Regions from separate parts of the Homo sapiens genome. Here regions 1 and 2 are each linked to region 3. Evidence: fine-mapped expression QTL. A gene starts in region 3. Each other region holds a variant in brackets. All regions are shown on one strand. Distances are from middle to middle.

Region 1 (2,758 bases), 100 kb after region 3:
AGTGCAATGGTGCTGTCTTAGCTCACTGCAAGCTCTGCCTCCCAGGTTAACACCATTCTCCTGCCTCAGCCTCCCGAGTAGCTGGGACTACAGGCACCCGCCACCACGCCCGGCTAATTTTTTTTGTCTTTTTAGTAGAGACGGGATTTCACCGTGTTAGCCAGGGTGGTCTCGATCTCATGACCTCGTGATCCGCTCGCCTCGGCCTCCCAAAGTGCTGGGATTACAGGGGTGAGCCACTGTGCCCGGCCTAGTTTGTCTTTCAAAACTACATGAGGCTAGACGCGGTGGCTCACACCTGTAACCCCAGCACTTTGGGAGGCCAAGTCAGGTGGATCGCTTGACTTCAGGAGTTCGAGACCAGCCTGGCTGACATGGTGAAACCCCATCTCTACTAAAAATACAAAAATTAGCCAGGTGTGGTGGCGAGTGCCTGTAGTTTCAGCTGCACTCAAGAGGCTGAGGTGGGAGAATCGCTTGAACCCAGGAGCTGGAGGTTGCAGTGAGCCAAGATCACACCACTGCACTCCAGCCTGGGCAACAGAGTGAGACTCCATCTCAAAAAAAGAAAAAAAAAAAAAATATATATATATGTATATATATACCCACAAACATGCGCATTGCACTCCCGCCTGGGTGACGGATGGAGACTCTGCCTCAAAAAACAAAACAAAACACAAATAAAGCTACATGAGAGGCCAGGCACCGTGGTTCACGCCTATAATCCCAGCACTTTGGGAGGCTAAGGCGGGTGGATCACCTGAGGTCAGGAGTTTGAGACCAGCCTGCCCAATATGGTGAAACCCTGTCTCTGCCAAAAATACAAAAGTTAACTAGGCTTCATGGTGGGTGCCTGTAATCCCAGCTACTCAGGAGGCTGAGGCAGGATAATCGCTTGAACCCAGGAGGCAGAGGTTGCAGTGAGCCAAGATTGCACCACTGCACTCCAACCTGGGTGACAGAGTGAGACTCTGTCTCAAAAAAACAAACAAAAAAGAAAACTACATGCAAGGCCCACAATGATTACTTGTTATGTATGTATGTATTAATGTATCAGATGTACATTTGTAATATGTTTATCAATATATTTGTACTAAAAGGCAACTTTTTTTTTTTTTTTTTTTTTTTGAGACTGGGTCTCACTCTGTCGTCCAGGCTAGAATGCAGTGGTGCGATCCTAGCTTACTGAAGCCTTGAACTGCTGTGCTCAAGCAATCCTCCTGCCTCAGCCTCCTGAGTAGCTGGTACCACAGGTGCACATCACTGTGCCCAGCTAATTTTTAAAAAATATTTTTTGTGGGCCGGGCGCGGTGGCTCAGGCCTGTAATCCCAGCACTTTGGGAGGCTGAGGTGGGCGGATCACGAGGTCAGGAGATCGAGACCATCCTGGCTAACTCAATGAAACCCTGTCTCAACTAAAAATACAAAAAATAAGCCAGGCGCGGTGGCAGGTGCCTGTAGTCCCAGCTATTTGGGAGGCTGAGGCAGGAGAATGGCATGAACCCAGGAGGCAGAGCTTGCAGTTAGCCGAGATCCTCCAGCCTGGGTGACAGAGCGAGACTCCATCTCAAAAAATATATATATAT[A/T]TTTTTTTGTGGAGACAGGGTCTCCCTTTGTTGCCCATGTTGGTTTCAAACTCCTGGACTTAACCAATCCTCTTATCTCAGCCTCCCAAAGTGCTGGGGTTACAGGCATGAGCCACCACCCTCCCTCCTTTGAGTAAAATGAAGGGCATTAGGTGTTTTGATTTTTGACAGCTACTTTCAGGGTCCTGGAGCCTGTTAGCTTGCTTCCTGGCCCTTGCCTCTATGTTCTAGGTGAGTGGCACCTCAGATAATTGATTTTTGAGTAGGTAAAGGCACTACTAGGCAACGTGAACCCAGCTTTCCAACAGCTCCCTGACCCGGGACTAGGAGGCATGTCTTCTCTCACCTTCTGGAGGATCAGTGGACAGCTTACGTGTCCCTAATCCCTCTGGAAGTCAGCAGTTATTAAGCTCTCTGACCGGGAGACCTCTGTAAAGGTGATCCTCCTAATCTAGGAGGATGAGCTGCTTTAGATCAGCTCTGATACTCGACAGAAAGTCTCAGAAGGGCTGGGCAGAAATAAAGCTAGAGTGGGAACATGATACCATTACGTAGAAATAATTTTAAATGTTTAATATGTTGATGACAACCTGGATTGAGAAGTTTGCTTTAAGAATTGCAACTGAAGGCTGGGTGCGGTGGCTTACGCCTGTAATCCCAGCCGAGGCAGGCAGATTGAGCTCAGGAGTTCGAGACCAGCATGGCAAAACCCTGTCTCTACTAAAAATACAAAAAAGTAGCCAGGCATGGTGGTGCACACCTGTAATTCCAGCTAATGGGAAGGCTGACGCACGAGAATTGCTTGCATCTGGGAGGCAGAGGTTGCAGCGAGCTCCAGCCTGGGTGACAGAGTGAGACTCTCTCTCAAAAAAAAAAAAAAAAAAAAAATTGCATCTGAAAAATAATAGGATGGGAGCCTGCACTTAGTTTTTAGTTCTGTGATAAATTTTGTAATAAAGTGCAGGTGAAAAGGTTTTTATTTGTTCTTAAACTCATTGACACCTGTATCAAAACATCTAGTTTGATATTAAAAGTGTCAGAGTTATCAACAAAACTTGAGAGAGCGTTACTCCAGCTTTAGGTCAGCTTTAAGAAGCCACATATGTTCACAGCTGAAATAGTTAAAACCTGTGTTTTGAGGCGCTGTGGCTTATGTCTGTAATCCCAACACT
Region 2 (2,758 bases), 140 kb after region 3:
TGAATAAAATGTGTGTGTGTGCTTCAGACAGATGGTGAAAAGTGTTCAGAGAAAAAGCGAAATTGAGGCAGATGGGATGTGAGGATGCCACGCACACTTTGTGCAACTGAAGAGGGAGGTGATGCCTGGCCTTCCCATTCAGAACTGCCCAGACCCCTGTTTTCTTCATCTGCCCCTAAGTAGGTGGAGCCACATCTAAAGAAAGCCCCCTTCAGACCTGTAATCTGCTTAGGTTTAATGAGGTCACAGGGTGAAGCCCTGTGGTCACATGGCTGTAGCACTTTCCAGAAAGTCTTTCTCAGTTTGTATACTGCCAGTGTGCATGCCAGCACTGGGCATTATTTACCGGGGTGAGATGAGATGGGTAATTTAGTGGGCAGTAAGTTTTTTCCCACTCAGGGTTGAGGTTGAATGTTTCCCCATTTCTGTCACTAAATAAATTTTCCTTTTTCATTTAGTCTTGCAACAAATATTGATTGAGTTCTTACATGGGAACGAACTCGTGTATTATGTTTGTATTTGTGTGTGTGTGACTTTTGTTCATGTTCTTTGCACATTTATTTATTGGCATCTTAATGTTTTCCTTGCTACTTTGTATAAGTTCGTTATGAATATTTTCTTATTGTGCTCTAGTATTTTTTTCTAATAAAACTTCCTAATACAGAGGATTTTTTTTTTTTCTTTGAGGCGGAGTCTCACTCTGTCCCCCAGGCTGGAGGGCAGTGGCGTGATCTCAGCTCACTGCAACCTCTGCCGCCTGGGTTCAAGCGATTCTCCTGCCTCGGCCTCCTGAGTAGCTGGGATGACAGGCGCCTGCCACCGCGCCCAGCTAATTTTTTTTGTATTTTTAGTAGAGACGGAGTTTCACCATCTTGGCCAGGCTGGTGTTGAACTCCTGATGTCGTGATCTGCCCGCCTCGGCCTCCCAAAATGCTGGGATTACAGTCGTGAGCCACCATGCCCGCCCTACAAAGGTTTTTTAAAATTAGATTCATGCTATGAGGAATTTGAATGCACTTTGGTGCAGCTAGCATTGTGTGTCCTTTTAAAGCAGTTAATATATCAAACAAATGAATTAAGTGTCAGTCCTGACTCACCCTTGTCAAAAAATACAGTGGTGACCGCGCACGGTGGCCACGCCTGCAATCCCAGCACTGTGGGAGGCCGAGGCACAATGGTGGCCGCGCGCAGTGGCCACGCCCGTAATCCCAGCACTGTGGGAGGCCGAGGCATAATGGTGGCCGTGCGCGGTGGCGACGCCTGCAATCCCAGCACTTTGGGAGGCC[A/G]AGGCGGGCGGATCATCTGAGGTTGAGAGTTTGAGACCAGCCTGACCAACATGGAGAAACCCCTCCATGTTGGAGAATTAAGAGGCAGGTCTCCACTAAAAATACAAAATTAGCTGGGCGTGGTGGCGCACACCTGTAGTCCCAGCTACTTGGGAAGCTGAGGCAGGAGAATTGCTTGAACCTGGGAGGCAGAGTTTGCGGTGAGCCGAGATCGCGCCACTGCACTCCAGCCTGGACAACATCAGCGAAGCTCCATCTCAAAAAAACAAAAAATACACTGGTTGTGGTATTGGAGATACTTGTTAAATATATATATATGTGTGTGTGTGTGTGTATATATATACACACACACACATACATAGGTGAAGATAATTGTTTAAAGTTGGTTTTAATATTTAATATTATTTTATAAATTAGTTTACTGCTTAGTCATCAAATTGATCTTCGCAAATAAATATGAACAGAGCTTCTAGGCTGGGTGCAGTGGCTCATGCCTGTAATCCCAATGCTTTGGGAGGTCAACACAGGAGGGCCACCAGAGCCCAGGAGTTCAAGGTCAGCCCGTTCAAGGTAGCGAGACCCTGTCTCTACAAAAAATTTAAAAATTAGCTGGACATAGTGGCTCATGCCTGTAGTCTCAGCTACATGGGAGGATCCCTTAAGCCTGGGAGATTGAGGCTGCAGTAAGCTGTAATTGCACCACTGCACTCCAGCTTAGGTGACAGAGCAAGACCCTACCTCTCAGTCTCTCAATATCTCTATTTCTCTCTCTCTCTCACACACACACACACACACACACACACACACACACACACACACACACACACACAAAATAGAGCTTCTAGGTAATGTAGCAGTAATAATACATTTTTTTTAACATTTTGTGATTTTGATTTGTTTATTTTTTATTAATGTTTTTGTAGAGACGGGGTCTTGCTGTGTTGCCCAGGCTGGTCTCCAATTCCTGGCTTCAGGTGATTCCCCTGCTTCGGCCTCCCAAAGTGCTGGGATTACAAGTGTGAGCCACTGTGTCTGACCTTTATTAACTGTTTATTTTGAAATAATTGGCTGGGTGCGGTGGCTCACACCTGTAATCCCAGCACTTTGGGAGGCCGAGGCGGGCGGATCACCTGAGGTCAGGAGTTTGAGGACCAACCTGGTCAACATGGTGAAACCCCATCTCTACTTAAAATACAAAAATTAGCCGGGTGTGGCGGCGGGCACCTGTAATCCCAGCTACTCAGGAGGCTGAGGCAGGAGAATTGCTTGAACCCTGGAGGCAGATGTTGCAGTGAGCCAAGATTGCGCCATTGCACTCCAACATGGGGGACAAGAGCGAGACTTCGTCTGGGGAAAAAAAAAATAATCATAGACTAATTCATAGGAAGTTGTAAAAATAGTACAGAGAGACCCCTGTGCCCTTCACCAGCTCCCTCTGTGTTAACATCTTTTTTTTTTTTTTTTTGAGATGG
Region 3 (2,758 bases):
CCTCCATTGGCAGCCTTTCAAGGTGAGTGGTAAGAGAGGAGGCCCCCAGCGGAGAGCAGGCTTCCAGGACAAGGGGTCACACGCCAGGGGTTTGCAGGGCCAGCAGGGCTCTGCCAGGCAGCTAACAGGGGCAAGGGCCAGACAGGCAGGAGCCAGCGTGCGAGGGAACAGCAGCAGCTGCAGGGCCAGGCGGGCCAGGCAGCGGCCCTGGAGCCTGGCAATGGACACCAGGTGAGGCAGGTGAAGGAAGCCGAGAGCAGGGTGGGGAGGAGCCCAGCCCTGGCCCGGGAAAGGCTTCCAGCCCAGGATTGGGATACAGCCCAGGAAGCAGAACCCTGGGCTCCAGCCTGTGTGGCATTCCGGAGGGAGAGTCCAGCACCGGGCCACACCTGCCTGCCACCACTGCTGCTGCCCATCTGGGAGCCAGCTTTCAGAAAGGGCTGCTCCACCCTGGCCCCGGAACAAGGGCTGTGTTGGTGGCAGCAGGGCTTGGCCCCCTCTTCTACCTCAGCCCCTTCCTGCCCAGGCTCCGTGGCAGGTCATTGCACCTCCAGGTTCCAGCTCAACCTACCCAGCCAGCCCACCAGAGACTCCATCGGGCACAGAGAGCAGCCTTACCATGTCGGTGGTTGTCTGACAGGATTCTGCAGGGTGGTGACACCAGGGCTGCTGTGGGCAGAGTGCTGGGGCAGTGGTGGCAGCTGAGTTTTAGCTGGGCCTGGCTGCCTGGGGTCCCCGGGGTCCAGATTCCAAGAGCCTTTTATGGGTGGGAAATCCTGCCGGCCCTATTTTGGGACAGGCTCTCGGCCTTATCCACAGGGCCCCTTCCCGGCCCGCTTTGGCCTGGGCTTCCCCTGACCCTGAAGATGGGCACCGAAGGCTAAGTGCGGGGGCCAGGAAAGGGCTGAGACATGGCGGGACCCTCACACACGCTGTTCCCCGTGCTGTTCCCTCTTCACTGGACCAAGCTCCAAGTCTACCTTCCCAGAGGTGCGGCCCTCCAGCAGGTCTTCATGGGACCCTGGTCCCATGCTGTCATCACTTACCAGTGAGATTTCTTGTTGAAGACCCATCCTGGCCAGCTGGTGCTCAGTGGCTCAGAGCCTGGCCACCCTCCCATCCTGGTGGACTCAACATTGGCCCCGTGCCAGCATGTCACAAACTCTCAGGACAGGTCGAATGAACAAATGCATGAGGCACCGCTTGACCATCTTGTACAGGAGGGGCTGAGGGTCCACCATTCAGGGAGGAGACAGCAGGACATGGGCTGGGGGTGAAGGGGGAAAGGGAGCAAAACAGGGCCTGGGGGCTGGGCTGCCCGCTGGAAGCCAGGCACAGTTGGGGGCTATTTTGGGGTTTCTCAGGGAAACCTGATCTCCCTTCCACTCAGAACAGCAAAGCTGGCTCCCGAGGGGGCCTGGTGCCCAGGCTGGTCCGTATCAACATGCCACCGTGGAGCACACGCCTGCACACGTGTGTTCCCTCCTCAGACCCGCACTGAGCCCTCCCTGTCTGGGTCTAATTACCCACCAGACTCCCAAAGCCAGGGTCCAGCTCCTCCCTGCCCCACCCAGGCAAGAGTGTGAGGATTGCAGTGGCAGGTCAGGGCCCTCAGGGTCACACTCACACCTGCCCCCCGACTGGCCCCTTGATGGCATGAAGAGTCTGAGCAGGTGGGGCACTCAGTGTCCCCCGCCAGCCCAACCCTCTGCCTGCCAGCAAACCTGCAGCTACAGGATGGCTCCCGCTGAAACCCAGGCCAGCTGCTGAGACTGCAAGATTGACGCTGACGAGGGCAGGCCAATGGCCCAGGGCACCTCCAGCCAAACGGGAGCCGGGGCTGGAGGGAAGCGGCCCTGGGTCTGGTGGGGCCAAGGGAGGCCCTGACCTTCATCCTGGCTGCTCCCTGGCCTCAGCTTTCCCCTGGGCTGGGGCAGGGAACAATTCACGCACTGAGCACCTTCCCCCAGGGGCATAGAATGGAGGGAGCCGCAGCACCCAGGCCAGGGCCCATCCTGGGTTCTGGCTCAGGGTCTCCAGGTACAGGCCAGCTGGGTACAGAGACACAGAGAACTGCACTGGCCTCGTGGCCCTGGACAAGTCCCCACCCCAACAACTCTCACAGCCAGTGGACAGCAGGCTCTGCCTCCTCCGTTCCCAGGCTTCCAGCGTCTGACATTCCTGGGCCACAGCCCTGAAGGTTCCAGACATCCTGATGGGCTTACGAGTGAAACTCAAAGCTGTGACCCCTGGAGCCCAACTTAAAGCAGAGGGCACACCCCCCGCCCCGCCCGTAGGAAGGGGCAACATGGCCACAACCACCATCAACCTCTCTCCTCTCCATCTAGGCTTCTACCCATATCCAAGACCCAGTACAAGCAGCAGAACAGGTCCTCGCCCTCTAACCCTCTCTCCTCATGCTGACCAGCCTCTGTGTGGCCTTCGGACATACCCCGTATCTCTAGGACCTGAGACTCATCCAATCTTTATTTTCCTTCTTGTGTCTCTTCTGATCACCGAAGGGCTATTCTCCATAAGAAAACAGAAAAAGAGGCTGGGCACGGTGGCTCACGCCTGTAATCCCAGCACTTTGGGAGGCTGAGGCGGGCAGATCACGAGGTCAGGAGATCGAGACCATCCTGGCTAACACAGTGAAACCCCGACTGTACTAAAAAAAATACAAAAAAATTAGCCAGGCGTGGTGGTAGACACCTGTAGTCCCAGCTTCTCCGGAGGCTGAGGCAGGAGAATGGCGTGA

Which allele goes with the higher level. Positions count from the first base shown, and alleles are read on the strand shown. Sizes are in standard deviations (SD) of each study's normalised expression.
As copies of A replace T in region 1, the expression in visceral fat of the gene that starts at base 1,094 in region 3 goes up (small effect, 0.40 SD a copy in GTEx).
With allele G in place of A in region 2, the expression in aorta of the gene that starts at base 1,094 in region 3 is lower (moderate effect, 0.47 SD a copy in GTEx).

The links. PIP is the estimated chance that this variant, and not a neighbour inherited with it, causes the effect.
Region 1: its variant is fine-mapped to the expression of CALML6 in visceral fat (GTEx, PIP 0.98).
Region 2: its variant is fine-mapped to the expression of CALML6 in aorta (GTEx, PIP 0.98). The same link has a PIP of 0.9 or more in stomach.

The regions. Positions count from the first base shown.
Region 1 is chr1:1,808,906-1,811,663 of GRCh38, reverse strand. The region is part of intron 5 of GNB1 (G protein subunit beta 1); the gene reads left to right. Among named protein-coding and RNA genes, the nearest start is that of NADK, 32 kb to the right of the region's middle. The variant A/T (reference allele first, on the strand shown) is at 1,587.
Region 2 is chr1:1,773,035-1,775,792 of GRCh38, reverse strand. The region is part of intron 1 of NADK (NAD kinase); the gene reads left to right. Among named protein-coding and RNA genes, the nearest start is that of NADK, 4.1 kb to the left of the region's middle. RefSeq lists an enhancer at 1,184-1,685. The variant A/G (reference allele first, on the strand shown) is at 1,287.
Region 3 is chr1:1,913,596-1,916,353 of GRCh38, reverse strand. CALML6 (calmodulin like 6) reads right to left here and starts at 1,094. Exons shown (of 6, transcript NM_138705.4): 1 at 1,047-1,094; 2 at 619-669. The coding sequence starts at 1,073. RefSeq lists an enhancer at 1,587-2,273.